Linked DNA regions of Homo sapiens: region 1 is linked to region 2. Evidence: fine-mapped expression QTL. A gene starts in region 2. The other region holds a variant in brackets. All regions are shown on one strand. Distances are from middle to middle.

Region 1 (2,804 bases), 47 kb after region 2:
CTGGTTTTCACCTATTACCTTAGTCCAGGATCTGCTATATTCTTGTTTCAGGTTATTTGTTTACAAGGGACAGGAAATATCTCCAAGTAGTTCAAGCTAAAAGGAATGACTTATTCCAAGAAAGAGAAGGAAGGTAGAACCAAGGTGTGGATGTACCTAAGAATCAATGGAGAGCACTTTCTGCCTCCTATGCCTTCTTTTTCCTCCTTGCTATATAGGTAGACTTTATCTAGGTGACAAACAGAATAATGCACTTTTGAATTCTCAAGTTCACATCACGAATATGACCAGAGTAGATGTAAGTGTGAGGTGGGTCTGTGAGATAGCCTGCTGTGGATAGGCTATACCAACCATAACGTATTTTTCCAGCCTTTACAAATGGCAGAGTCATTGTGAGGAAGGAACTGGCTGCCATTCAGGTGCCACATCTAGTACTGAGCCCTTCCTAAGATGTGCTGTTCAGTCTTATCGATGTCACACATGACGTCGATTTGCAGATACTAATGGCAACAAATGCATTGTCACAATAATTGAAGAGTCATTCTCTTGTCTCCTGCTAAACTTCCAGTAAATCCATTAAAGTCACATAAATGTTGTCTTGTGATGCACAACTGAGCTAACAAGAAGAACAGGGCTTTGTTTCACAACTTGTTGCTCAAATTGTTGTGGCATTTGGGGTTTTCCCCATTAGAAAGGAAAGAACATCCTGTCTCAAAAATAGAGTAAGTTTTGGTGAAGAAATTGAAAATCTAGCGGGGCTACAAATCTCAATCATTCAATTTAAATTATTATTTAAAGCACTGCTTTAGGGATTTCATTGAGGTTAAAGCACTTTACAACGCAGCCCAGAAGCACTGCATTTTTGTTTCATTGAATGTTGAACAGGATTGCAGGGTTTCATAAAACCTTTTAGTGACTGTTGCTAATCCAAGCCACAGCATCAGCTTAGTTCTGCTGTGATAGGTAACCAGGATGCTCCACTCACCAAACCCTAGGTTCTGGCCTGGGACTGCATCTGCCTAGAGGAACCAGAGCCTGGAGCCAGGAGTGGGCCAGAGAAGCCCTGCTCTGGGGCTGGAGATTAGCAAGACGTGACTCTGAGGGCCAGGACACACTTTGCAGGCTTATGTCCTCTGCCACCTGGTAGTATTTCCACACCCC[T/C]AGAAGTCACCACGCACAGGGCGTAATTCAAGGTCTGAACTTAAGCATTTCTAATGCAGCGAACTGCATCGTTGAGGAAAAGACTGATGAATGCTTCCATACAATGTGGGGAGAAAATATTACAGCTAATATATTTTTTGTTTGTTTCAGAAAATGCAAGAGTGAAAAATAAGCTTTCAGCTCTGGGATGATAGAAATCCTCAGATTGGACGGCATGAAGTGGTCAGAAAATGACATCAGCCCAACCTCACGAGGCCCAATCAATAGACTCAACATGATGGCGTTTCTGAGAGCAGTGGCTTCTAAGGCATGGGTAAGACCCCAGCTCTGCCCCTACGCCTGACCTACTGTAGATTTTTTAACTTCCTCAAACTTCAGTTCTATATTTGTAGCAGGAATGTTACAGTAGTTCCTAATTTCAGAGTTTCCGGAAGAGTCTATGGATTGAGCTCTACCGTGAAAGTACAGAGATTTAGATGACTGGCGTAACTGATGTGTGAGACATTATTTTCACCGTAAAATTACTCCGTCTTTACTAGCAAGACTCCCAATGTCTCTAAATCTCACCAAGAAGCCTTTAGCCAGGGGTCCCTTCTGATGGCAGCCTATGTGAAGAGGCCACACCAAGCCTGGCAGAAGGTGAAAGTACCCCCAGGCCACGATTCTCATCAATTCCCGTTAATTCCCAGAGGTTTACATGGTGCTGTGTGGTGAGGGCTGCCCCCGTTCTGTCCAGTTTAATCCTGAAATGAAATTAAACACCTTCATTACATTACACACAAGCACACATATGCAGACACACAAACACACATACCCACACACAAACACACTTATGCCACACATACACAGACACACAAACACACATATACACGCACAGACACACACACATATACACCCACATACACACACAGACACACACATGCACACATACTCACACAGACCCGCAAACACACTTATGCACACACATACACAGACATGCACAAACACACATATACACACATACACACAGACACACACACATATACACACATACACACAGAAACACACAGACATATACACACAGACACATACACAAACACACATATGCACACACATACCCACACAGACACACAAACACACTTACACAAACACACGTATGCACACACATACACAGATACACACACGCATATACACACAGACACACATAAATACACACAAATATGCAAACACACACAGACACACATATACACACAATACATACACACAGACACACACAAATACGCACACAAACACACATGCACACACACACACAAACACATACACACATATGCACACATACATACACACACATGCACACACACAAACACACAGATTAACAAACACACATATGCACACACAGACACACAGACACATACACAAACACTTCTTTACCCCAAGTATTTCATGATTTCGGGAACTTTATTAAACGTTTAGACAGTAACATCTTCGGCTGAGATCCCCTGGAAATAGATGCTGAAGCCAGACCTTGAGCATCCAGAGTCCATTTGGGACACAAATTCACGATGACGTAAAGTATATTTATGAGCCATTTACTGCTGTGAGCAACTGGGACCCAATCCCGCTGAGCCCTTCCATGAGAAGGTGCAGGGCACAACTCTGAACTG
Region 2 (2,833 bases):
CTTTCTCAGTTTACCTCATGGCTTCAGAGTGACATGAGGCATTGAAATAAGTGAGCATTGAATCTGAGGGCTCAGGAGCCACCTTCTACCTTTGCTCCTTTGGTGACATGCTAGATGCCCTCTGGTAAGTCAGTTAAATTCTTTGGGCCTCCTCTGAAAATTGGATCCAATGAGGCCAACACTTCCTGTTTCACAGGGTTACATGGGGCTCACATGCAATTCAAGAACAAACTTTGTAATACGAGGCAAAAGATACACAAACAAGCATGTACATTACTCAGACAAAGGCTTGGTCCTATGAGACAATGGGGCATGTTCTCATAAGATTCCTGTGAACTTTGTAGGCTCTTGGGGCTACAGGAAAACAATTTTAATTGAAGAGAGAAAGAAGAATGAGACCAGGATGTGGCCATGGGTGATCTCAGCTACAGAGCATCCTGCCCAAGAAGCCTTGGCACAGTCCACGTGATGTCATGCCCCAGAGTTAAAGAAACTAGTAACTCACTGCAATTCTTGAGTTTATAAGATGACAGACAAAAAAGAAACAACGTGTGGAGATGTTGAAACTCCCTCTGCTTATGAGATAAAAAGAACTGGCTGAAATTGGTTGGAACCAATGTGGCCAAATAAAGTCTGCACAGAACAAGCTTGCTGATGTCACAGCCTGAATTTCAACACAAGTTTCATACTAACTACCCCCAAATTTGCACATGAGACCCATGAGGAGGTATGAAGAGATAACTGTGTGAGGCTGAGGACTTTCCAGACCTCCCTTTTCCTTCTACCAATTACCTACTAACCCCAGAATCCACCCCTAAACCTTTTCTAATAAAATTACTGCCTTAAAGCCAGCACAGGAAGACAGATTTGAGCTGTACTTCTGTCTCCTTGTTGGTTGATGTACAATAAAAAGCTTTTATATTTTCTCAAAAAAAACAGTGTCTTGGTATTGGCCTCTAGTGCACTGGGCAGTGATCCCCTTTGGCCGATAACACATACACAGGGTAGGCAGCAGCCATGGCTTAACTTTGGGTGCCGTTTTCTTGTTAGGCCACTTGAGCCTTGGGTGGCTAAATCCTAAAGCGTGGTTGCTTCCAGCTTCAGAGTCTCATCCATTTTCCTGAGTGCCATTAAAATATTTTCATTTCTGCATGTGCCTTGGCCATGGAAGGGATAGGTCTCTCCTCTCCCAGTCTCCCTGACGGTTGCCAGGCACCTGTTTGTGTTTGAAATAGAAAAACACACAGGATTCCACACCAAGTGTTCTGCCTGAGCAGGGCACTGGCAACCGGGGTGGAGCTGCAAGAGCCTTTGGCCCCATGGAGGGACTGCTGGCTGCCGGCTTCTTCACTTCAGCTCCTTCTGGAGATGACCAAGTCTGTGGTGGTGCCTGAAGATTTAAGCAAGGCCCAGGTCATGCTGGGTTTCATGGGGAGATGATGGTATTGCGTTGTTTGTTTTCATAATAAGCAAGCAGGATGTGAAGAGGGGAAATGAAGTCATCAAAAGGTTTTTGTTCTTCCCAAATTGAAGAATAACAAAATCCGTGAAAATTACGAATTGATTTAAAAAGTCTAAAAAAACCTGAAGTCACCCCAGGTCTTCAAAACCTTAGAAACACTGAATTTGGCAGCAAACTATAAGAATTTGTTGGCTTATTTCTTTTCTTTCTCTTTCTCTTTCCTTCCTTCCTTCCTTCTTTCCTTCCTTCCTTCCTTCTTTCCTTCCTTCCTTCCTTCTTTTCTTCCTTTCTTCCTTCGTTTCTTCCCTCCTTGCTTTTTCTTTTCTTTTATTTTCTTCCTAAAGATAGAGCTACTCAAAAAATAACTAGAAAGAGAGAAACCCACTGATTGGATTCAAGGTGTGTTTATGGGTCAATGTGTGTTTAAGGCTGATATTCAAAAAGCAACATAGTCACTAGAAAATAGCAAAAGTTCTATCCTACAGGTTCATCAGGACAAAGACAAAAATTCCTTAAAATTATCTCAAAAGAGTGAAGAATATCAGAAAATGTTAACAGACTGGATAAAAATGTAGATATTCAGGAAAGTCTAAAACCATTCATAATAAGCTCAAAAATTAAAAGAAGAAATAAACAATCTCAATGAACCTAGTAAAGCCACATCCACAAGCATAGGCCAAGTCACACATGACAGAGAATGACAGATCTGATCCCTGTCTACAGCCAGGGAAGTCTGACACCCTCGCCTGGCCCCCTTCTTGATAGTAACACTGTGGGGGGCAGAGAGGGGTGACTTGGACTAGGATACGTAAAGTGAATCCGGAAAAGAGACAACCTGGATGATCAAGCAGGAACTGATTTAAAGGAATTGATGTCTGCTGCTAAGGTAGGTTATTTTTAAACCTCAGAAGAGGAAATTTAGGAAATGCATTACAGTTTTCTGAGCAAAATAAATGGACTACTTAGAGTTTGAACTAATAGTCTCTAAACCGAGAAAGCCCTTCACGGTTAGAAAATGCGCAGTCTGACAATGAGATCCAAGTGCTTCAACTGTCATGCATTTCAGCTGCCTGCACTTTTTCAAGGACATGCATTACAATTCCACAGAAAGTTCTCTGAGGAGCTAGAGATGGAGAAATAGCTTTCTATGGTATGTGAATATGTCACAAGAGAGGCAAGTGAATATTTGCCCTTTTCACATCCTCATCCTAGTCACTTCTTATCCACCACCGCCTCTGGCCCCACTGTCCTCTGCACCTGGTGTTATGAAGCACAGTGGGGAGCAGGTGAGGGATGGTACACTGTAGCCTCAGGTCCTATGGATGTGGGCTTGGATCCTGGCTGCTTACTATCCTCCCTGGCTGTGTGTCT

Alleles and levels. Alleles are on the strand shown, and positions count from the first base shown. SD is a standard deviation of normalised expression in the study named.
For the expression in monocytes after LPS of the gene that starts at base 1,301 in region 2, T is the low allele of the variant in region 1 and C is the other (moderate effect, 0.74 SD a copy in Quach 2016).

Evidence for each region. PIP is the estimated chance that this variant, and not a neighbour inherited with it, causes the effect. A credible set is the group of variants that fine-mapping cannot tell apart.
Region 1: its variant is the best candidate, but not a certain one, in a credible set for the expression of LINC02376 in monocytes after LPS (Quach 2016, PIP 0.70).

The regions. Positions count from the first base shown.
Region 1 is chr12:127,236,071-127,238,874 of GRCh38, reverse strand. No RefSeq gene overlaps it. Among named protein-coding and RNA genes, the nearest start is that of LINC02376, 47 kb to the left of the region's middle. The variant T/C (reference allele first, on the strand shown) is at 1,162.
Region 2 is chr12:127,282,751-127,285,583 of GRCh38, reverse strand. It overlaps LINC02376 (long intergenic non-protein coding RNA 2376), which reads left to right and starts at 1,301. Exons shown (of 4, transcript NR_146537.1): 1 at 1,301-1,442; 2 at 1,948-2,348. It overlaps LOC124903050 (a long non-coding RNA gene), which reads left to right. Exons shown (of 3, transcript XR_007063523.1): 3 at 1-936.